Linked DNA regions of Homo sapiens: region 2 is linked to region 1. The links come from fine-mapping of genetic effects on gene expression. Tissue or cell type: transverse colon. Region 1 holds a variant in brackets; the other region holds the start of a gene. All regions are shown on one strand. Distances are from middle to middle.

Evidence for each region. PIP is the estimated chance that this variant, and not a neighbour inherited with it, causes the effect.
Region 2: it holds the start of NXPE1, and the variant in region 1 is fine-mapped to the expression of NXPE1 in transverse colon (CEDAR, PIP 0.95).

Annotation. Positions count from the first base shown.
Region 1 is chr11:114,517,525-114,526,447 of GRCh38, reverse strand. NXPE1 (neurexophilin and PC-esterase domain family member 1) reads left to right here. Exons shown (of 9, transcript NM_001395504.1): 8 at 3,357-3,569; 9 at 3,945-7,514. The coding sequence ends at 4,480. It also overlaps a transcript of NXPE2 not described here. Among named protein-coding and RNA genes, the nearest start is that of NXPE1, 38 kb to the left of the region's middle. The variant A/T (reference allele first, on the strand shown) is at 4,713.
Region 2 is chr11:114,555,548-114,562,987 of GRCh38, reverse strand. It overlaps NXPE1 (neurexophilin and PC-esterase domain family member 1), which reads left to right and starts at 3,107. Exons shown (of 9, transcript NM_001395504.1): 1 at 3,107-3,190. It also overlaps a transcript of NXPE2 not described here.

The sequences.
Region 1 (8,923 bases):
GGCAATTTAAAATGTCACTAAGGAATATAAAATAAAATTCATATAAATAGAAGGAAAAAATACTGTCTCTAGATGGGATGATTTTATATTTAAAAGAATGTCAGTTGTCTATGTATCATTTTCTTATTGCTGCTATAATAAAGTGGCTTTAAAAAACAAAAATATATCATCTTATAGTCTGTAGTCCAGATGTCCAATGCTGGTCTCATTGAGCTAATCCCAAGGTAGAGCAGGAGCATGTTCCTTCCTGGAGGCTCCAGGGGAGAATCTGTTCCTTTGCTTATTCCAGGTTTTTAAGGCTGCCCACATTCCTTGCAGCCCTCTTCCTCTATCTTCAAAGCCACAGCAGAGGGTCAAGTTTTCCTGTCACATCTTTGACCCACTCTTCTGCCTCCCTCTTCCACTTTTGAGGACCAATGACATTAGATTGGGCCTACCCATGTAATCCAGGATAGTCTCTCCATCTCAAAGGCCATACCCTGGTCATAACTGGAAAAGGCAACATTGTTGTGGGAATTAAGGGACAGGAGAGACCAATGGATGGAATAAGAGGATTTTATTTAGGTGGCTACCTGCCCAGTGGATTAACTTCCAAAGGCTGAGCCCCGAACAAAGACAGGGCTTGACTCTTATACATGTACCTGAAAGGGTATTGGCTAGCTTGAATATACACTTCACTAAATGGTGCAAAACCTACAGGGCGGGCAAGCAAGCTTACAGAAGCAGAACAAAGGCAGTTTATCAAACAGTGACAGGTTTTACAACTCAAGCCAGGTGTTGCAACTCAGGCATATGTTGTGACCTTCACTGTGCTGCACAGAAGGGAAAAACAGGCACTTACAAAACTTGCAAAGATAATTTTAAGAATAGTAAGGGGGGAAGGGGGAAGCTGAATGAGAAAAACTTGTTTTTCCCAACCTTGCTTTGGGATGGGAGGGAGAGACTCTGAAGCCCATCCCTTCTGGGACCCGGCTCTGCAGATAATGCTACCAAAGCCTCATCAGAGCCCTGCCCTTCCCTGGGTCTTAGAGTGGGTCAGCCTAGTACAGGAAAACTTGTTTTTCTTTTTATATCTTCTGCTTCAACATATTCACAGGTTTTAAGAATTAGGATGTGGATATCTTTGGGGGACTATTAGTCTCCCTATCTAATAAAAAATATAATGGAATCTATTTCTCAGTGGGCAGGTCTATGCAAACCTACTCCCAAAGTTTGAGGAAGCTGAGAGGCCAAAAAAGAGTCTGACACATCCAGTTTCTCGAAACATTTAGTAGGGACTTACAAGCAGAAGCCATGTTTATGTCTCCATTGTTGAGACAAGATGGTGGATCTCCACACCATTACCCCCAGATCTAGGGCTTACAGAGCATAAGGGAAGGGTGGTTCAGATGGGATGTACAGGACAATTGAAGTACAATACCACCAAGGCTGTTTGACCTACGGGCAAGATTTACCATAATTATCTGCTGTTATACAAGAAACACTAGATAAACCGGGGTTAATCAGGAGCCAACATAGCAGATTAGCATCTAAAATGGAGTTGCTTTTGCCTGATATACAGAATCCTGATATTATTACCCACATACTGTTCAAAATGCTCAAGCTTATTCTAAAACTATTAAGTAAAATAAACATGTAAGAGTAATCATAAGCAAATTTGTTATAAGTTTGAGACGTGGCAAAATGAATACCTGACACATAAAGATTACACAACATAGGGTTTACAACAATACACTTAAAGGCTATGTTCTCAGCAAAGTGTGCCAGTACATTATTAGGATAAAGAATACTTAATAACTATGAATCTCAAGTTTCCAGGGTCATGGTATTCAATCATCTAGGGTGCAATGCTATCAAGCCTCATAGAAACCCATCAATATCACACTGTAATTCCAACATAATTATAGGATTATACAAACTCCCTTTAGTAAGCCAAATCACCAGGACTTAAGAGCTATTCCAAGTGCACTTTCCAATTCTGCCACCAGCACCATTTTACCACTTTGTCCATAGGTTACAAATACAATACAACCATGTAATGATGCACTATTCTGTGGACATAGGCAGCCAGAGACTGCAAGGCCTCTGAGGAACTAAGCAAGGAGGGTAAAGCAGAAACTGCTGATGGTTCCCCAATACTCACTGCCTTCTCCTTCTTTAGTAATAGAAACCAGTTGTGGCTAGACCCATGGCTATCCTTTCTTATATCTAGTTGTGGCCATGACTAAGTTTTTTCCAGAAGTGCAAGTGGGAAACTTCTAGGTCATGCTTTAAAAGCAAAACAACTGGCCCTCCCTATCCATTTCTTCCCTTACTACTAGCCGAACTTTAGATATAATGTGAGAACAGCAAGAGCCAAGTTAGACCATGAGATTAAAGCCACACAGTAAGAATGTCATAGCCACAACATAGAAGGAACAAGAGTCCCTGACACCATGCAATGGCATATTAGCCCTGGCCTTCTCACTCCAGGCCTGTTATGTGAGACAGAAATAATCTTTTATTTTTAAGTCATTATTATCTTGGTCTTTCTTACAGCATTCAAACTGGTTTCCTATCTCATACAGAACGTAGTATCAGTATAGAAGTCCTGATATAACAAATCCTAAAATACAAGGCATTGGCTCAGTGATGGGATGGCAGCATAGAGAGTGGTAAGGAAACATGACAGGAGAAATTGGATGCCCTTTGTTATGCCATAACAAGACATTTGCTTCACTGCTACCTACCTGTAATAGAAGGCAGACCATGTGCAAACAGAGCCTGAAACTCTAGTGAAACTTCCTGGATTATCTCAGAATATTGGTTTGTATTGGATGTTGCATGTTGCTTTTAGCAAAGTCTGGTTTTACAAAAAATTGTCAAGCTAGGTGACTATTATACTATTTGAGGTTTTTATATTTAATGTACATATTTTAAGCCATTTTTTGAACACGGAAAAATTAAGATTATTCATTCCTTCATTAATGAAACAAAGGTAAAGAATTTTATACAGCGGCACCAACTGGCAGACCACTAACATCATTTGGGTAAGAGACAAAGACAGAAGTCACCACAGAGTCAGGAAAAAAGGATAGAACGTCAAAGAAAGGATAGAACGTCAAGATTTAGCTCATGACCAAATTTAGGAGGAAAGGAATTAGACAGAAGGCAAGATGACTCAAAATCTCTTAAAGGAATAAGCAGAAGTGCCTGAAGCAAAGCTAATGATCAAAGAATAGGACTAGAAAGGGACAGAAAAAGGAAATAGGCATTACAGGAAGGGGGAAAGAGAGCAAGAAAATGAAAGACCAGGAAAGAAGGCTAGATGTCTAAGTTTTGCCAATAAAATCATTTACGAGTGTCTTTGTTACCAGAGAGAGAAAAAATAGAAGAGACATGCCAAGTTGGAATGAAGCCTCCTGTCCCTGGTGGTTATACTTTACAAGGAAAATGGATAACAACATTTTGCAACCAGGTTCAGTTAGACACAATTAAGATAAATGGCTGTTTGAAAGGCAAACTCATTTACCTCCTGGGAGACTCTACACTACGTCAGTGGATCTACTACTTCCCCAAAGTTGTAAAAAGTAGGTAGTTACTTTATATTCTCTTAGAAATTCAGGCTGGTTTTAAAGTACTTTTAATGAGGTCTCTATTCTCTCGTTTGAGCTATTTTGTTTTTTACTTCATTTGGCTCTCTGGATTTGAACCTTTACATTTAAAATGTATTTTATTCCTTCTTTCATAAGAAATGTTGGTCTTCTTTTAAAATTCCAGTGAAAACTTTACATTTTTGATTGACATTTTACATGTATGAACTGGGGGTACTGTACCCTAGAGAGTAGAAAGGCTCCAGTGAGCAATTATCTAGGTAGGGTGGGTATTTTAAATGATAGGACATTCTTTTTCATGAATATTAACCATTATCTTCTATTTAAAACATCTATTTGTTTTTTTATCAGCACTGAAGTTTTTTGATCTTCATGAAACTGGAATCTTTAAGAAACATTTGCTTCTGGATGCAGAAAGACACACTCAGATTCAATGGAAAAAACATAGCTATCCCTTCGTCACTTTCCAGCTCTACTCTCTGATAGATCATGATTATATCCCTCGGGAAATTGACCGGCTATCAGGTGACAAAAACACAGCCATCGTCATCACCTTTGGCCAGCACTTTAGACCATTTCCCATTGACATTTTTATTCGCAGGGCCATCGGTGTTCAAAAGGCTATTGAAAGACTGTTCCTAAGAAGCCCAGCCACTAAAGTGATTATTAAGACAGAAAACATCAGGGAGATGCACATAGAGACAGAGAGGTTTGGAGACTTCCATGGTTATATTCACTATCTTATCATGAAGGATATTTTCAAAGACCTCAACGTGGGCATCATTGATGCCTGGGACATGACCATTGCATATGGCACTGACACTATCCACCCACCTGATCATGTGATTGGAAATCAGATTAACATGTTCTTAAACTACATTTGCTAAGGGATAAATACTATACAAAATCACTAGGAACCAATCTCTGCACATAATCCCACATGTATTGTAAAGTAAGTTTTACTCATTTTAGGAACTAAGGAAAATAAATTTAAAAGAATCTGTTTGGGGAGGAAGGCTATGTAAGGACAATGACAACTGATAAGGGATGCAAAACCAAGAGAATCATTCATGAAGAATGACTATACCATGCCTGGTTCTGATGCTCGTTTAAAATATT[A/T]AAAAAGTTTTTTAAAAGCCATGTTATTAAGCTGATTTGAAAATATCTGTACAAATTCATGATGCTTTCTATTTCCAATATAGATATTTCCTAGCTCTGTCTATTGAAAAGGCCTAGGAGCAATGATAACCCATTAGCAATAATCACTCCGAGCACCCTAACTGTGATGTCTAAGAACCCTTCCTCAATAAAAGAAAAGAGGCATCCTTGAAGGGAAGGCTGATTCCAGGACTGGAACAGAAAATATGTATACCATGAGCCTGGACATCTTGTTATGCCAGAAAGCAAATAATCAAAGACAAATGGAATCATATCATGGAACAGAGGAGGTAACCCAAAGGAGTCTCTTCATTGGCCATAGATAGATTAGTTTTAGCATCAAAAAGACTAATGACTGCAGTTAATTGAAATACATAATATATAAAATCCATGAGGTCATAGCAATACAAAAAGAGACATGCAAGAATAAAAGCAAAATCTCTCATGTGTCGTAAGTGGAGTTGGGTAAACCCTTATTTTGAAAATTGGCAACAAAAGGGAAATATATGAACATTTATCCTCTTTCCTGTTAAAGAGAAAATCAATAACCCTAATAGATAAAGGAAATTTCTTCTTTTTGGAAGAATTACAGCTAATGAATACAGAAAGAACGACAGAATTAGGAAAGCACCATTTAAAAACTTCTACTCAAATAAGTAAATAAGGCAGAGATCATCAGTGAATGAACTTTTTTAAAAGGTTTGATTGGAACTTTACTATGGATATAGCAGGCTGTCACTTCTGAATCCACTGCTCAAACTTAGCTTTATTAATTTTAAAGCTTTGTAACAGCAGGACAACTGGTCATTATGTCCTACATGATTTGATGCAATGTAAAGTATACAACACCACCTATGAAGGAGCGAGATCTGTAAGAAAGATGCTCAATTTGGAAGTCATCATTATATATAGGTGCCTGCTAAAAATGAGGAGATGGTAATATTTTCACACACAAAGGGAACTCTCATACACTCTTGGTGGGAATGTAAGTTGGTACAGCCATTATGGAAAACAGTATGGCAGTTCCCCTAAAAACAGAACTACCATATGACCCAGCAATCCCTCTGCTGAGTATCCCAAAGGAAATGAAATCAGCACTTCATAGAGATATCTGCATTCTCATGCTCACTGCAGCATTATTCACAATAGCCAAGACAGAGAAACAACATAAGTGCCCATCAATAGATGAACAGATAAATAATTTGCAGTATATATGTACAATGGAATATCATTCAGCCTTACAAAAGGAGATGCTGCTATATTTGCAATAACATGGGTGAACCTGGAGGACGTTACGCTAAGTAAAATAACAATATTGAAGGAAAGAAATAATACTGAAAGAAAAATATTGCTTGATCTCACTTATATATGGAACTTAAAAACTACACATAGAAACAGGGTAGAATGGTAGTTATCCAGGCTGGGAGGAAGAGAAAACAGGGAGGTGTAGGTCAAAGGGTACAAACTTGCAGTTCTATTGGATGAATGTCTAGAGAGCTAATGTACAGCATGAGAACTATAGTTAATATTGTATATGGAAAATTTGCTGAGAGACTAGATTTTAGGTATTCTACCTCAATTAAAAAGGTAATTGTGGCCAGGCACGGTGGCTTACGCCTGTAATGCCAGCACTTTGGGAGGCCTAAGCGGGAGGATCACGAGGTCAGGAGATCGAGACCACAGTGAAACCCCGTCTTTACTAAAAATACAAAAAAAAATTAGCGGGCAAGCTCGCCGAGATGGCACCACTGCACTCCAGACTGGGCTACAGAGCGAGACTCTGTCTCAAAAAACAAACAAACAAACAAAAGGTAATTGTGCAGTGAGGAATATGTTAATATACTGACTACAGTAATCATTTCACTATGCATATGTATATCAAAACATCACACTGTATACCTTAAATGTATGCAATAAAAAATAAAAGATACATACACAAAATTCTTTAAATGTCCCACACACAAGACAAATACGTGTTCAAATACATCAGTCTCTGAAGCCTCTGCACCACTCTACACGCTGCTCCTTCTGACTAGAATGCCCTCCTGCCCCTCCTTCCACCTGTCAAACTCCCAATCACCCTTTAAAACCAGATTGAATTATTTTCTTCTGTGAAGCTTTCCCTGACACCCCGGGAAAGAATAATGTTTCCACAGTGTTTTGTCATTTACTCCATAAAAGAAACAAAAACATGTATTTTTAAAAGTATCTGTTATCTCTAATAGCTTGTAAACATCTTGAGGAAAGAGACTAAGTTTTGCTTCTTTTTCCCCCAAAGAGAACTTTATTAAAACATTTACCATCTCTTTAGAGAGAGGTTTTACCATCTCTTTAGAAAGCTCCAGAATCTACAACCAGGAATAAGTGTTAATGGGATAGAACCAATGAGAGAACAGCATATGATAGTGAAATGTACTTTATTATTAATACGAATTCAGTGGGCTCACAGAATGAACCTTTTTGCCAAACGGGGGGAAAGCATTTTCTGTAAAGTATCTTTAGAAAAATATGTATAATTTGAAAAATGGTTATCCAAATTTAACATTTGTCATATAAAAGGCTCATAAAACGTGTGTGGCTGTGTTTCTCAAAATTGTGGGGTCAATTGGTCACATTATGCCTAGACATTCTGGTTTTGTTCTTGGGGTTAATAATGGTTGTGGTCTTATAAGAAAAGGAAATCTGGAAATCTTGTCCCTGTTATTAATACACCTGTCATTACTAATAAAAGTGGTTTGTTGATATGCTAAATAGGTTGAAAAAGCTGTCACTTTGCATGAAATTAACTAGGGAATACTTCTTTATAGCATGAATATGTAAATGTTCAAAATTTCACAGTAAACTCAAGAAATTAATTTCTAGTTCTCTCACCTTGTATCCAATATAAGTGCAAATTAACTTACATTTAACCTTCCTGGGCTGAGGTAAGTAAATTTGCAAACACAGAGTTAAAAGCTTCCTTTTTATTCCCCAAAAACATTTCTGTTAATTCACAGCCCTTCCCTGGATGAGTCAAGATTTTTGACACTCTTGAGGTGTCACCACAGAGCAAAGGATACCTCAGAGCAAAGTGATGGTCTGCCCATTTCTCAATTCCCCCTTCTATCTATTCAGTTTCCAACAATTAAGATTTCAATTTCCAAATATATCCAAAAGATCTTCAGACATCCAGACAAGAACCCCATTCACAAAAACAAGGTGCTCTTACATACAGTAAAAACATTCCCTTTTTGTCAAGGTTTATTTTTCCAGTCTTCACCTGAGGCTGGTAGCTGGCAGCATCTTCTTTAAAGATAGGATTTTCCTTCATTGAAATATTCCATGTGGCCCTTTGGCTATCTAGGCATGTTTTACAGCCTAAAGGTGTAACACTTAGAGCACAGAGCAATGGCTGTGGGGCTGAATGTGCTGAGCTAATCCTAAAGTTTTCTGTACCTCTCAGCAGATCTCGGAGAGGCAAGGCAGATGTTGCTGAGCACAGTGATTCCCGCCACTGTTTCTGGTCTCAAAGCCTGAATCGTGTTAATTGCAGCTCTTGGTAAGGAAAAAGGAGTGCTGGTGTGAAGATAAGCACCAAATAGCAGAGAGCCACATTCAACCCAAAATTTATACCCAGAGGGTGGGAACACTTAAGTCCCATCATCGCATACTACAGAGCCTGCTCCAACCTCACAGGAAGCCAAGACATCCAGGCACCTACGCACCTTGTGAACCTGTTCCCAGCATTCCTAAGGGTCACTTTGTAATCCATGGCATGTGCCTCCCCCTGGTACTTGTGTGGCTATAACAAAGAGGAGGACTAGCAGATGCAAAGCTGTGGGAGCAGAGCCACCAGGGGTGCAGCTGGGACCTCCATCAGGGCATGGTTTATGAAGGCCCCTAAATGGTCTGTGTGCCACCTTGATGTCAGTTTCCCACCAAGCCTCCTTCTCCCCTTACTTCCTGACCCCCAACCTCTGGTTTCTCTATTCTCTTCCAACTCACCAGAGTGGAGGAAGCATCCTTCATGGAGATGCACAGCTGTGATCCCAGCTCCATGATTGGAACCATTTTATTCATCTTTAGTCCTTAGCACTGGGCCCAGCACATAGTAGCAAGCAATAAATATTTGTCAAATAAGTGATGCTGTATCTCTGTGTATCTAGAACATGACATAAAACAGAAAATAAATG
Region 2 (7,440 bases), 37 kb before region 1:
TTTTTTTCTGTGACTTAATATAAATTCTGAAAAGAAATGGGTCTCTCTCATTCTGAGATCTTGAACACCAACGACCATGTATGGCTTAAGCATGTTAGGACTATCTTGCTGCATTATCTTGAGAGCAAGCATCTCTAAGAAAATAGGACAGGAGAGCCTACAGGCTTAGAGAGAAGCTTGATTACATTGTTTGAACCACAGATCGAGCCTTATCTGAAGCTAGATTAATTCCTAAGACTTCCCACTCATATGAGTCATTAAGTATACTTTTTCCTTTAGCTTGTGTGATTGGATACAACGACTGAAAGAGATAATTTACTTCTGTAAAGTCAACTTGACTCTGGATAGTAATAAATAAGAGAGATTACAGATGCAGTTGTGAAAGTTGTTACAGAGTCTAGGAAAATGGCATAATTAAATAGTCCCAGGATTTATGTTTGATATCAAACAGAACTTGTTGGATATCCTGATGAGAAATATGTAAAATAATAGTATTTCTGTCTTTTCCTATGATTCCTACTGAAATCAGTAAAGGTGGACACAGAGTTTAACAGAGACAGCCATGAGGTATGACCTCTCCACATATCATATGGAAGCACTGAGAATGTGTGCAAGGGCTGGGAAGACAGAGCAGTGCTGTGCATAATCCCCAAGAGGGAAGAAGAGAGCATGGACTCTCAGAAGACTGGATATTGGCACTCAGCACCAGGAAATATTTCTAACCACTCTCCCAGAAGAAAATGCAATAAATAAACCCAACATTTACAGGGAGGCTAGCAGAAAATTTCAAATGCAAAGATGAACACATAACCAAAAATTACCAATCATTTGAAAGAGACTAACACTTGAAAGAGAGGCATAAAGCACAATAATCAGAAGAAATTGACATGCCAAGAAAACAAAGTTAAAAGGACAGTTGATACAAGAATTTAGAATAAGTGTGTTTAATTACCAGACTGATGTGAGAGGATATTGCAGCCATACTTAGAGTTAACTAGATATTTGTTAAATTTAAAATATGATACGTGAAATAAAGAAAAACTTGAGGGACACACTAAAGTTCAAAATGAAAACAATAAACTGGAGAAATAAAATGTTAACTCAAGAATTCTTGCAGAATACAGAATAAAAGGAAAGTGTGATCAAAATTATGAAAGAAAAGTTAACAGATATTAGATCTCAGGTCTAATGGGCCATTAAAAGCGCCAAACATGATGAAGATAAAAAGATCTGCATAAAATTTCATAATACCAAGGATGAAGAGAAAAATGCTACAAAGATTCACAATTATACTAACTTTGACATCAGACATTTCATAAATGACATTGGATGCATGAAGAGAATGAAACAGTATCCTCAAGGCTAAGAAGAAAAATATTTTTCACCTAATTCTATAGCAAGTAAATTTATCATCTATTTAGGAAGAAAAAATATGTACTCAGTCTAATACTGGTCCCCTCTGAAAGAGCTACCAAAGACTTTACAAGATAAGAAACAAATTGAGTAGTGAGGAGTAGGTTTTAGAAACAATATTGGTTAAAGAAACCAAGGTAACAAACAATATTGCCTAATTGTGAGTGAGGCAATATGTTCATATGAACTGTTGACACATGCAATAACTTGGATGGACATCGTGGACGTTACGCTGAGTGGGAGAAAAAAGCCAATCTCAAAATTTACTCCCATGCATAAATAGTAGTAGTTGGGGTGGTGATAGTAGTAGTTGCTAATTATTTAGTGCTTAAACTAAGTGTCAGAAACTGTTTTTAAATGTTGTACATGTATTAATTCATTTAATCCTATGAGTACTTAGCACAGTACTAATAATACTTGTGATCTTCAAAACTAAATCTTACAAATTGGCACAGGGTCTGGGCATCCAGGCTTAGAAAGAGAGATGAAGTTAGATTTATGTTACAGAGCTGAAGTAACAGTCACATGACAAATATGAAGGTTCCAGAGGGAAGGGCATGAGGCATGAGAGAAAGGTCTCCAATATGTAGTCAGTAAAATATTATTCAGCACTAAAGAAATAAGCTATCAAGCCACAAAAAGACAGAGAAACTGAAATCCGTATCGCTAAGAGAAAAGCCAATCTGGGACAGCTACACACTGTATGATTGCAGCTATGTGACATTCTGTAAAAGTCAAAACCATGGAGACAGTAAGAAAACCAGTGGTGACCAGGGGTTAGAGGGGAAAGAAGGATTAATAGGCCTAATTATTCATATACACCCATATATTCCCTTTCATGTTACAGGCATTTGGCATAGCAGAAGTTACAGCAACATTTACTGTATTGGTGAATTAAATAATGTTTATGATAATGACGAGTTAATGAACCATATCCCCTTTCCCTAACTCAGAGCAAATAGTCCTTCCCCATTTATTAGATATCCTTTTCAAACCGATAAAAGATCCAGCTGGGAAAAGTGGCTCATGCCTGTAATCCCAGCACTTTGGGTGGCCGAGGAAGACAGACCACTTGAGCCCAGGAGTTCAAGACCAGCCTGGGCAACATGGTAAGACCCCATCTCTACAAAATACAAATTAAAAATATTAGCCAGGTGTGGCAGCATGCACCTGTAGCCCCTAGGCCCAAGGCAGAAGGATGGCTTGGGCCCAGGAGTTCGAGGTTGCAGTGAGCTATGATCACGCCACTGCACTCCAGCCTGGGCAACAGAGCAAAACCTTGTCCAAAAAAAAAAAAAAAAGAAAAAAAAAGAATTCTCAATCACCCACCAGTTCTCTGCATGGTGTCCACTGACAATTTGTTCTCTTGTTTGGAGTTGTCGTGAGACTTCAGATTTTCTGAGGAAAGCCTATCCATAGAGTCACTTGGGGTATTTTTACACTATGACTTCAAGGACCACAGCTGTTTCAGAACTAAGAGGTTTTCCATTCCCAAGGGTCACCAGTAACATGGAGAGAGAAGGAATCTCAAAGAATACCCGAGTAACACCCAGTTAACAGAGGCTGTGGAATTATCTAATTGTCAGTTAATTGTACTACTGTTTATTGCCTCTTCAAATCTCCACCCCAAGATAAGCCAATTTACGAGGAAAACAGACTGATGAAAATAAATGTGTTCACAGACAAGGAACAAAAACATTTTACACAGCCACAAGAGCCAGTTAAGAACTCACAGGTACTTTTCCAGCCACCCAGATAGGAGAGATCATTAAAACAGGTGAGTAAGCAAAACTATGGAGACTGCCTTTCTCTATTTCTAATCTTGCCAGTGGTCAGTGGAGGGCAGGGAAGAACAAAGCAAAAGAAATTAGAAAGACTGTGTCTGCTGAGGGGTTCTCTCAAGTCAGAGAAAGATAAGAAAAGGGAGAAAGCTCAGAAGAAAGTGTGGGAAACAAAAAAAAAAACTGATAGTGAGAGCCTCTCTTACTGACAAGGATAGGCTGGTTTTGACGGTGAGACAGCATCAAGATAAAATATTTCTCTAATAACCAACCAGCAAAAGTCCCCAGTGCTTTGTGGGAAGCAAGCATGGATACAGTCACTCAACCTAACATCTAGTTGGAGAGAGGAAGAAGGACATCAAAAATACCTGTTTACAACTGATATTTCTTTGCCTTGTTTTATGTATGACATTGTTTGGGTGGAAAATGTATGAATATGTCACAGGAATTCAAAATACGGGAGAGATCGTTGTGGTCTAGAGTTATGCTGGAAAGTTTCCTGTAGAGATTGCCCCTGAGCTGGGGATTCACTGACTATAGAGTCTAGATTGGTGCAGGGGCAGGCCACCCCAGGTGGGCAGTAGGATGAGTCATAAACAAAGCCAGAAAAGCAGGAAGGATTCTTTTTTAATTTTTGTCTTTGAGTATGTGTGTATCCATGTATTGTGCTTTGTATGTATATTTTTAATTTACATAAAAATGTGATAAAGATTTATGTTTATTTCTTTCTTCACTTAGAGCTGTTTTTAAGAGCTCTTCATATTACAGGTAAATCTAGTGAGTTGTATCTAACTGTTGGATAGTATCCCACAATACACATCCACTACATGTTTCTTAACCATTTCATAGTAATACATATTAAAGTCTATTTAATTCCCTACAATTACAGCTATACATATAATCAACTGAAAACAAACTTTGTATGTGATTCTTTATGGACCTGACTGAGAAGTCCTCTGTGATGTATCCAGAATGAATTGCTTGGACATAGGGCATAGATAAACACAAACTAACAGAAATATTGCCATTCTGCTTTCAAAACGATCATGTTAATTTGTACTCTTACATAGCACAGCAGAGTTATGTATAAAGATCCAATCTATATTGTGACCTAGTTCAGCTTAAGTCCATAACAGGAGGATTGTTTAGCTTTAGAAAATATACGAATGTAATACATCACATTTAAACATAAAAGTTTAAAAATTCATATAATTACCTCAATGAATCAGAAAAGGCCTTTGTCAATAACTCAACTTCCATTAGTAATAGAAACACTTCACAAACTTTCTTAAAAGAGAACTTCCTCAATCTAATAGAAGGCATTAAGAAAAGCAAATATCACAAATCCAACATCATATATTTAATTACACATAGTAAAATGTTGAAACTAACTATGAAAACAAGGCAAACGTACCCAATATGGCCACTTCTAATCATCTTTGTTCTCTATGTGTGCCTATATAAAAGCACTATTAAAATAAAGCACTTGCATTTCTACACATCAGCCACAGATATTTGTTTGGAAAATGAAATAAAAAGAAAAACATATAGAATGTGCATATATATGGATATATATATACACACACACATAAACACATATACATAGATGTGTGTATAGTTTATATTTATAATTATAAATAAAATTTATGTTTCCCAAAATAGTAGACTTGCTTATAGTCTCCTTTTGAGAGCAACTAGAAAAGCTAGAGGATGTTATATTTGATCTGTTAAGCGTCAGAGAGCAACTGGGGCAGTGAGGGGTTGAGAGATCTAGATTCTAGAGAGAAAGCAAGAGAGGAACAAAGGGCAGTTAGGGAAATAGAAGGAAAATGAGGTAACATATTCAAAGTGCTGATGCTTTTAACCACCAAAAACAAAAATAAATAAATAACACTTGTCAATCTAGAATTGTATAGCCCGCAAAAGAAACCCTCAAAATGAAAGCAAAATAAGATTTTTTAAAATGTAACCTTGAGAATTTGTCACTAGAAGATGTCTTACAGAATATTAAAGATAGTTCTTGAAGCAGAAGATAAATTCTCCCAAATGACAGTAGAGAACGGCAAAGAAGAATGAAAAAGAAGGAAACTAAATGTACAAATATAAATGAACAAGGATTTTATATATATATATATATATATATATATATATATATATATGTATTATATATAATATATTGTGGTGTTTTAAATATTCCTAGAATTAAACCAGTCAGTGGTGAGTGCCTATAGTCCCAGCTACATGGGAGGCTAAGGTAGAAGGATCACTTGAGCCCAGTAGTTCCAGTCCAACCTAGGCAGCATATTTCTTTTCCATCTCTAAAAGAAATAAAATAAATATTTCTAGAACTGAAATGCCTGACTATAGCAAGAAAATGTGAAAGAGTTAAATGTAAATGGAGTACAGTTTTCTAAGGTCCCTCATTTCCTAATAATTAGTAAAAGTACCAATTTATATTAGACTTCATTAAGTCAAAGATGCATATTGAAATTTCCAAAATAGAGTAGAAATTATTAAAGTAGTTTTTATAACAAGCTAAATGAGAATGGAAATAGAATAATTTTAGAGTTTTTGACTAATACACAAGAGGTCAAAAAGGGGGCCGGGCACGGTAGCTCATGCCTGTAATCCCAGAACTTTGGGAGGCTGAGGCACGCAGATTACTTGAGGTCAGGAATTCGAGACCAGCCTGGCCAACATGGTGAAACCCCGTCTCTACTAAAACTACAAAAAATTGGCCAGGTGTGGTGGCTCACGCCTGTAATCCCAGCTACTCAGGAGGCTGAGGCACTATAATTGCTTGAACCCAGGAGACAGAGGTTGCAGTGAGCCAAGATAGTGCCACTGCACTCCAACTTGGGCAACAGAGTGAGACTCTGTCTCAAAAAAAAAAAAAAGTCAAAAAGGGAGAAAATGGAATAGAAATAGAGAAGGTGGGACAAATAAAAACCAAATAGTAAGATAAAATTACATAGATATATCAACGATAATATGAAATATAAATGGACTAGGAAGTTCCAGCTGCAAAAAATGTCAGAGTGGCTTAGATGAGACTAATATTTCTCATAGAACAGTATTAAACTCTGGAAAAAAATACATTTTAAAAAATGATATGAAAGCACTAGAAAAAGGCCAAAAACTGGCAGAAACTAGAGGGAATTTGACACTTAAAAGTAGGGAATCATGCTGCGTGGGAGCCAGCTTTAAGGGCTCTTATCCTGACAATATACCTCAGTGTGTACTGTGCAAAGCAACTTGAATTCAAGCAGAAAACTGCAGACTTGCAGCCTGGAGATGTCACAGGATGGAGTTCAAGGCAATTGACCAGGGAAATTCCAGGAGAAAGGCCTTAGAAGAAAAAGCCCTGAAATCTACTCTCAAATCTTTGACTGATCCCTGAGCTCTGTGTATCCAAGGGAGACTCCACAAAGTGTAGCACAGAACAACTGCTGAATAAGTAGAGATTTAATCTGTTGCTCACTGAAGGAGGAAACAGAGTTTGTAGGTTTTGAGTTCCAGTAAAAAGGAGGAACGTGGTGTAAAAAGCCCAGGCTTTTCAAGACCCACCTTAAAGTAAATAAAACCAACTCTCCATAAATTCAAACTGAGAGGTATAAACTGTTTTCATGAATTGGAAAACTCAATATTGTTACTAGAGCAATTCTCCCCAAATTTACCTACAGATTAAGAGCAATAAATTCCAGTAGGCTTTTTGTAGATTTGTCAAAAGTTAAACATTTACTTACCATATGGCCCTGTCATTCCACCCTTAGGTACTTACCAAAAAGAAATTAAAACATTTGTCCATATAGAGAACCATATATGAATATTCAGAGCAGCTCTATTCACAATAGCCCCAATCTTTAAACAACCCAAATATTTATCAAATGAGGAATAGATATTATGAGATATTGCTCAATAATGAAAAGGAACAAACTACTGATAAATGCAACCTTGATGAATCTTCAAAAACATAATCATAAGTCCAAGAAGCCAGACACAAAAGAGTACATTCTACATTATTCCATTTATATGAAACTCTAGAAAAAGAAATCTCATCTGTAGTGCCAAAAACTAAATCTGTGATTATCCGGGGCCAGAAACACGTTAGGCATGGGCAGCGGGGCATGCACAGGAGGAGGACAAAATTGACAAGGAAATGGAACTTTGGGGTGGTGGTAATATTCTACTTATTGATTGTGATGGGTACACAGGTGTCTACATTTGCCAACATTCATAAAACAGT